Regions from separate parts of the Homo sapiens genome. Here region 1 is linked to region 2. Evidence: fine-mapped expression QTL. A gene starts in region 2. The other region holds a variant in brackets. All regions are shown on one strand. Distances are between the middles of the regions. Region 1 has its middle 20 kb from the start of FAM95A. Region 2 holds the start of ZNF2 (zinc finger protein 2).

The links. PIP is the estimated chance that this variant, and not a neighbour inherited with it, causes the effect. A credible set is the group of variants that fine-mapping cannot tell apart.
Region 1: its variant is the best candidate, but not a certain one, in a credible set for the expression of ZNF2 in whole blood (TOPMed, PIP 0.52).

The regions. Positions count from the first base shown.
Region 1 is chr2:94,779,299-94,783,815 of GRCh38, forward strand. It overlaps the pseudogene ANKRD20A8P. Among named protein-coding and RNA genes, the nearest start is that of FAM95A, 20 kb to the left of the region's middle. The variant C/G (reference allele first, on the strand shown) is at 2,513.
Region 2 is chr2:95,163,665-95,167,922 of GRCh38, forward strand. ZNF2 (zinc finger protein 2) reads left to right here and starts at 2,145. Exons shown (of 5, transcript NM_021088.4): 1 at 2,145-2,196. RefSeq lists enhancers at 1,133-1,769, 1,770-2,404, 1,832-2,261.

The DNA of each region.
Region 1 (4,517 bases), 380 kb before region 2:
AAATCCTTGTCCCACATCCAGGGCACAAGGGTGTGAGGGCTGGGCTCCCAAGGCCTTGGGCAGCTCTGCACCTGTGGCTTTGCAGTGTTCAGCCCCCGCAGCTGCCCTCATGGGCTGTGCTGGTGTTGAGTGCCTGGAGTTTTTAACCCATGGAGGGTATGAAACTTTTGTTGGGTCTATGAATCTGGGATCTGCACGATGGTGGCCTCCAGTGTGGGGGCTCCAACCTCATATTTTCTTTCTGCACTGCCCTAGTAGAGGTTTCCCATGAGACTCTGCCTCTTGGGCAGCCTTCTGTCTGGACACCCAGGCATTTTCATACATCTTCCGAAATCTATATGGAGGCTCCCAAGTCTCTGGACTAGTGCTCCGTGCACCCACTGGCTTAACACTATATAGAAGTCACCAAGGCCTATAGCTTGCACCCTCTGAAGCAGTGACCCAAGCTGTACCTGTACATCTTTCAGCCAAGGTCAGAGCAGGAGCTGGGGCTGCTGGGATGCAGGCAGCAGTGTCCTGAGGCTGCACACAGCAGCAGGGCCATGGGGCTGGCCCAGGAAACCATTCTTCTCTCCTAAGTCCCAGGGCTTGTGACAGCAAGGGCTGCTGCAAACATCTCTGAAATGCCTCCAAGGCTTTTCCCCACATTGTCTTGGCTATTAGCACTGGCCTCCATTTTATGCAAATTTCTGGAGGCTTCATGAATTTTCCCCCTGAAAATCAGCTTTTCTCTTTGACCACTTGGCCAGGCTGCAAATGTTCCAAACTTTTGAGCTCTGCTTGCCATTTAAATAGAAATTCCAACTTGAGGTCATTTCCTCAGTCACACATAAGAGCACAGGCTGTTTGATGCAGACAGGATCCCTCTTGTGCTATGGTGCCTAGAAGTTCATTCCACCAGATATGCACTAAATTATCACCCTCAAGTTCAAAGTTTCACAGATCTTAAGGGCAAGATCGCCCTGCAGCCACGTTCTTTGCTACAGCAAAACAAAAGTAACCTTGGCTCCTGTTCCCAGTAAGTTCCTCATTTTCATCTGAGACCTTGTAAGCCTGACCTTCACTGTCCTTCCTTCTGTCAGCATTTTAATCAAAACTATTTAACAAGTCTCTACAATGGTCCAAACTTTCCCTCATCTTCCTGTCTTTTTTCAAGCTCTCCAAACTCTCCAACCTCTGGCTGTTACCCACTTCTGAAACTGCTTTACACTTTCAGCTATCTTTGTTGCAGTTTGGCACTCCTGCCTTTCACGCGTAAACCCAAAAACAATCCCCCCCAACTCTCCCCACCCCCTTAATACCCTCCACTCTCCCCCAGGGGAAACTTCAAGAAGGCTTCAGATATTTGCGTTAAAAAGAAGCCCAGTGCTGATAGCCAAGACAATGGGGAAAAGTCCTTGAAGATATTTCATAGCTCCACTTTGCAGTACTTATTTTCTGTGTGGTAATAATGAAAAGGGGATTCATTGGCTCATGGGTCTGCAGGCTGTAAAGAAAGCATGGTGGCTTCTGCTTCTGGGAAGACTCAGGAAACCTCCCAATCATACCAGAAGGAAAGCAGCAATGAAATGTTTCATACAGCATGAGTAGGAGAAAGACTGAGAGAGGAAAGAGGCATCACAGCCTGTTATACAACCAGATCTCCTGAGAACTCACTGTCACTAGGTCAGCATCAAGAAGATGGTGCTTAACCATTGGTGAAGGAGCCACCCCACAACACACCTCCACCCCCTATTGTTTCCAGACAGAAGCCTGCTGCAGAGACAGAGCCTCTTGGAAATCCTGTTCTATGGCAGTGCAGAAGGAAAACAAGGGCTTTGAGTTGCTATGCAGGAGGCCACCATCCTCTAGACCCCAGATTCATAGACCTACCAACAGTTCGCAGCCTCAGTATGGAAAAGCTATAGGCACTCAATACCAGCCCAGGCCATAAGGGCAGCCATGGGGGCTAAAGCCTGCAAAGCCACAGGTGCACTGGCCTGGTAGAGGTTTTCCATCAGCCTCTGCCTCTGCAGCATGCTACTCCCCCTTCCTACTACGCACCACCCTCCCACCACCCTACAGCCGGCCTACTGTTCCCCACCCTACCCAACCCTTTTTTCTCCCACCCCCACACCTCCCATCCATGATTAAATAATCTCCCACCAGGCCCCACCTCCAACATTTGGGATTATAATTCCACGTGTTTTTCTAGAGGCACACAGCCAAATCATATTATGCTGACCCTGATCCCCCCAAATCTCATGCACTCCTCACACAGTAAAATACAATCATGCCTTTTCAAAAGTTTCCAAAAGCCTTAACTCATTCTCGCATTAACTCAGATGTGAAAAGTTAAGTCTCATCTGAGACAAGGCTACAGTCTCTTCTGCCTATGAGTCCCTGAAGTTAAAATGGCATTCATTTATTTCGAGGTACAATGATGGTACAGGTATTGGGTAAGTTTTCTCAATCCAAAGGGAAGAAATTTCCAAGAAAAATAACACAAGTGGAACCATAGGCCCAATGCACA[C/G]CCAAAACCCAGCAGGACAGTGTTCATTCAATCTCACAGCTCCAAAATCATGAAGAGAACTCACTCTCAGAAGGGCAGCATTAAGGAGATGGTGTTTAATCATTTGTGAAGGATCCACCCCCACTCCCACCTTTTACCCATAACCCCAACCAAACACAATCCCTCCCAACTCTTCCCACCCCCCCCAATACCCTCCAACTCTCCCCATCCCTCCCATCCAACCTCCACTCTCCACCATGATTAAATCACCTTCCACCAGCCCCCACCTTTAACATTCCCCATTAAAATTCCACATGAGTTTTGGGAGAGACACAGAGCCAAATCATATTACTCTGTCCCGGGTCCCCCAAATCTCATGTCTTTCTCACATTGCAAAATACAATGATGCCTTCCCTACAGTCCCCCAAATCTTAACACACTCCAGCATTTACTGAAATGTCCAAAGCCCAAAGTCTTATCTGAGACAAGTCTACAGTCCCTTCTGCCATGAGTCTCTGAATTATAAAGCAACTTAACTACTTCCAAAGTACAATGATTGTACAAGCAATGGGTAAGCATTCTCAACCAATAGAAAAAAAAATTGCTAGAAAGAAGCACAAAACACAGATGGGACTCATAGGATACATAAATGTCCAAAACCCAGCAGGCCAGTCACTCAATCCTACAGCTCCAGAATCATCCTTTTTGAAACCCTGTCCCAAATCCATGGCACAGGGGTGTGAGGGCTGGGCTCCCAAGGCCTTGGGCAGATCTGCACCTGTGGCTTTGCAGTGTTCAGCCCCTGCAGCTGCCCTGATGGACAGGGCTGGTGTTGAGTGCCTGTAGCTTTTCCATACTGAGGGTGCAAGCTGTTTGTGGGTCTATGAATCTGGGGTTTGGAGAATGATGCCTCCCTGTGTGGGGGCTTCAATCCTATATGTCCCTTCTTTGTTCCCCTAGTAGAGGTTTCCCAAGAGGCCCTGCCTCTTGGAAAAGCTTCTTTCCTGGACATCCAGGCATTTCTGTGCATCTTCTGGAGTCTAGACAGAGGCTCCCAAGCCTCTAGTCTCTTACTCTGTGCACCTGCTGGCTTATCATTATATGGAAACCATCAAGGCTTGGAGCCACCTCTGAAGCAGTAACCCAAGCTGTACCTGTGCATCTTTGAGCCATGGCTGGAGGTGGAGCTGCAGGAATGCAGCCAGCAGTGTCCTGAGGGTGCACAGAGCAATGAGGCCATGAAGCTTCCCCAGGAAACCATTTTTCTCTGCCAGGCCCTAGGGCCTGTGACAGCAAGGGCTGCTGCAGAGGAACCTGAAATGCCTTCAAGGCCTTTTTCCCATTGTCTTGGCTATTTGTACTGGGCTTGTTTTTATACAGATACCCTAAGCCGTCTTGAATTTTCCCCCTGAAAATCAGCTTTTCTTTTTGACGACTTGGCCAGGCTGCAGATTTTGCAAACTTTAGGTCTCCACTTCTCATTGAAATAGAAGTTCCAACTTGAAATCATTTCTTAGGTCACACATAAGAACACAGGCTGTGCAATGCAGGCAGGACACCTCTTGTGCTTTGCTGCCTAGATATTCATTCCACCAGATACATCCTAAATCATCACCCCCAAGTTCATAGTTTCACAGATCTCCAGGGCAGGGTCACCGTGCAGCCACGTTCTTTGCTAAGGCCAATCAAATGTAACCTTGGCTCCTGTTCACAGGAAATTCCTAATTTTCATCTGAGACCTTTTAAGTCTGGACTTCAGTGTTTATCCTTCTGTCAGCCTTCTGATCGCAAGTATTTAACAATCCTCTACAGTGGTCAAATTTTCCTCATCTTGCTGTCTTCCAAGCTTTCCCAATTCTCCTGACCTCTGTCTTTTACCCACTTCTGAACCTGCTTCTACACTGTCAGCTATCTTTATCACAACCTGGCAGTGTGGTAAAAGAAGAAAAGTCCACTTTCAGGGAGAAAATTCATGAAGGCTTCAGTTATTTGCATGAAAAGGAGCTGAGTGCTGGTTGCCAAGAAA
Region 2 (4,258 bases):
GGTGCAGTGGCTCATGCCTATAATCCTAGCACTCTGGGAGGCCGAAGAGGGTGGATTGCTTGAGCCCGAGTTTGAAACCAGCCTGGGCAACATGGTAAAACCCCATGTCTACAAAAAAATACAAAAAGTAGCCAGACATGGTGGTGCATGCCTGTAGTCCCAGCTACTCTTGAGGCTGAGATGGGAGGACTACGTGAGCCCAGGAGGTGGAGGTTGCAGTGAGCTGAGAGCATGCCACTGCATTCTGGCCTGGCTGACACAGCCAGAGCCTGTCTCAAAAAATAAATAAAGTGAGAGCTAGAATTCTGAGAATCGAGCAACAAACCTGACTTTTAGACTGCTAAATCCTAGAGCACATAAACTTCCACTTTGGCAGCTACCTGGAAGCGGTAAAGACAAAGCCTAGGGCCTGCCAGTGGGTGGGGAATATTCTAGAAGGAAACACTTTCAGGACCCCAGTTTCCACCCTCAGTATAAGGCTAAATAATAAAAACCACCACACAGAAGGGAACAAAAAAAAAAAAGTATTTCTCTTATGGATGTTGTGACTTTAATCAAGCTCTAATCTCCTAGGAAGGTCCAAACCCCTTAGTACAACACAAAGGCAGCCACAACCTGGCCTTACCTCAAGATAGTTATTGGCCCCTAAACCTCATCCACAAGGCATTCATTTTGCTACTAATTATTTTCACTTTTATCCTCTAGACTATGCCTTTGCATGTACTATTCACTGTTTAGATCACACTTTTTTTTTCTTAAGTATTTAAGTATACCAGTGAAAGGAATCCTTTCCCACCTTTCCCGGCCATAGTTAATAGCTTCCTCCATTGTACTCTCATAGTATGTTGAATGTGACATAATTATAGAACATACTGCCTCTATTGTGATTTTACATTCTGATTTTTTCCATTGGACCAAGAGTTCATTTGGGGCAGTAACTTACTCATATTTGTAACTGTGCCTTGCTTATGGTGAGCAATTTGGATTTTTTGAATGAAAGTGTAGTCTTATGGAGATGGAGAGTAGAAGGATGGTTAACAGACTGGGAAGGGTTGGCGGGGTGGGGAAGTGGGGATAGTTAATGGGTACAAAAAATAGAATAAGAAATAGTATAACTAGTATTTGATAGCACATCAGAGTAATTACAGCCAATAATATTGTATATTTTAAAGTAACTAAAAGAATATAACTGGATCGTTTGTAACACAAAGGACAAATGCTTGAGGTGATGGATATCCCATTTGTCCTGATGAGATTATTACTTATTGCATGCCTGTGTCAAAATATCTCAGGTGGCCCATAAATGTTCACACCTACTGTGTACCCACAAAAACTTAAAAAAAACCCAAACCACTAATAAATTAACCTGGAAAAACGTAGCTTTGTTCCTGAAGTAAGATTTTATCATATTCTTTGTAATTTTCAGTCTTCCCTGAGATGTAGCTCAGTGGTTCCTAGCTTTAGCTGCACATTAGAGTCACCTGCAGCTCTTTTCAAACTGTCGCTCCACAGCTGGGCCTCAGGCATCAATGTCGAAAGCTCTCCGGGTGATTCCAGCTTGCAGCCAGGGCCGTTCCAGCAACTCCAAGGCTGGCTGGTGTGCGCTGAAGCTGTCGGGAGTCGGACCAGCTGCACAGTTAATACATATGTGTCCTAGGCTCCTCTCTCCTTCCAACGCAAATATGTGTACAAACCCTGCCTGGAACCGCAGCCCTGCTCTCAGAATCAAATTCCTGAAAGTGGGCAAGCGGAAGCGGAAATAAGCCCTCTCCCAACGCCAGCTGACTCGATTTCGTCTCGGTCTTCCCCAGAGCTGGACACGAGGCACCATGATCAGAGAGACACATTCCCTGCGGACGGCGCTCCCATCGGATACTGGAGGGACGCGACACTAGAGGCAGGCAGTACTTCAGGGTGACCATAAGTCTCCCAAACAGCCACAACGGCTCGCTCTCCCAGCTAAGGCGACAGCGCTGCCATTTTGGATCCTGTTCAGCCACGGGAAGCCGGCGTTTGCACACATTTTCGGACGTCATATTAAAGCGCACCGGACGCCGAGACTTCTGGGAGATGAAGTCCTTGCGAAGGCCCCGCATTGATTGGGAGCGCAGTCGCCAGGACCCTGTGCGCAGGCGCGTTGGTTTCCCGACCTGAAGAGGCGCCGTCTTCCCGGGTCCCGAGCACTCTGTGCCGGAGGTGAGGGTTGTGGGTGTGTGTCTTCAAGGAGCGGAGTGAGCGCAGCAGCCGAGAGAGGGGACATGAGAACTTTGGGGAGGTGCTGTGGGAGCAAAACGGGGTGACACGGGCGAGGCCAGCCTGCAGAGCGTGTGTCGCGACGTCTCGGTGCGGACGGAAAGTTGTGCATCCACCCCCGTGTGTGCGTGTGTCCCGTGGGGTCTGGGCACCCATTGTATGTCGGTCCCGGACTTTAAGGTTGGAGGTTTGGAGTCTTCCTCCGCCTCTCCCGTTTCTTCTTCCCATAATGGGTGCTTAATGAACGTGGGTGGAATTGACACCAAATCTAGGATGCTGCCGCTCCGTCTTTGCCAGACAGCGCCTCAGATTGCCTCATTTAGCTCCCTGCCCTGGGCCTCCGCACGAGTGCTGGAGGGCTTCATGGAGGAGGTGGGATTTGACGTGAAAGAAAAACAACAACAACAAAACAAAAACCACGAAAGAAGCAGCTAAGCGTTAGGCAGATTTGAGCTGGAGATAGTTTTTACAGAAATGCAGGAACAGTGGTAGACAAGGTTGAAGAAAAGGTACGCTGGGAGCCAGGGCCCGGGACTCAGAGAATCAGGACAAGACTCAGTAGGCAAGGTGGCTTATATAGGTGTGATCCAGGGACTGACACGAATGAAACTATTTGGAGACAGTTATTCTAGAGGTCACATTCAGGACTAGAGAGGGGAAAGGACCAGTAGCAGAGAGCTACTTAGGAATGTATGGTAGTTTTGGAGTAAGATGTTGTGGACTTGAATTATGGTGGTGGTAGTGAAAGGGAAGGATACAGATGACACTGCAAAAGAAGAGTCAAAAGGGCCTGGTGACTAGATTTGGGAGGAAAGAGAGTGAGGTAAGAGTTTGAATTTGGGACACCTGGGAGAACAATAAAACATCTGATACAAATGTAAAGCCAGGAAGAGGCGTTGATGTGTGGAATTGCCTAAAGGAAGATAGTTTTGAGGTGATGGTGGAACGCCTGATTTAAGGTTTGCAGTCATTTGGAAATGCAGGATGAGTCTGGAAGAATGCAATACAGTTGTATTGTAAAATTACAATACAATTACAGGACATGGACATCTGTAGAGTTTGAAAATGGAGCCCTGAATGTGGATGGACTTTCTGAGGGATGGCAAAAACGAAGAAAGTACAAAGACTGAGCTATGGGCAGCATCCATGTTTCCAGGGCAAAAGTGGGGAAAAAGAGTCACAGAAAGACAGCAATTTTAGTGGTTGGAAGAAAAGCTAGTGCAGTATCATAGCAGTTACAGTAACCACTTGAATAAGCAGAAGCTTGTCCGAACAGTGAAAAGCTACAGAGAAATAGATAATATGGCCGGGCACAGTGGCTCACGCCTGTAAGTCCCAGCACTTTGGGAGTCTGAGGCGGGCGGATCACGAGGTCAGGAGATCGAGACCATCCTGGCTAACACGGTGAAACCCCGTCTCTACTAAAAAAATACAAAAAATTAGCCGGGCGTGGTGGCGGGCGCCTGTAGTCCCGGCTACTCGGGAGGCTGAGGCAGGAGAATGGCATGAACCCGGCAGGCGGAGCTTGCAGTGAGCCAAGATTGCGCCACTGCACTCCAGCCTGGGTGACAGAGCGAGACTCAGTCTCAAAAAAAAAAAAAAAAAAAAAGAAAGAAATAGAGATAATAGGATCAGAAATGCATTGGTAGGCCAGGTGCGGTAGCTCATGCCTGTAATCCCAGCACTTTGGGAAGCCGAGGTGGGCAGATCACTTGACGTCAGGAGTTCAAGACCAGCCTGGCCAACATGGTGAAACCCCGTCTCTACAAAAATACAAAAATTAGCAGGGCATGATGGCGGGTGCCTGTAATCCCAGCTACTTGGGAGGCTGAGGTGGGAGAATCACTTGAGCCCGAGAGGTGGAGGTTGCAGTGAGCCGAGATGATGCCATTGCTCTTCAGCCTGGGCGACAAGAGTGAAATTCCGTCTCAAAAAAAAAAAAAAAAAGTAGTTTTCAAGCATGCCATTTCAGGTGTGTGAGGGGCAAAAGCTGAAAAACAGGGAC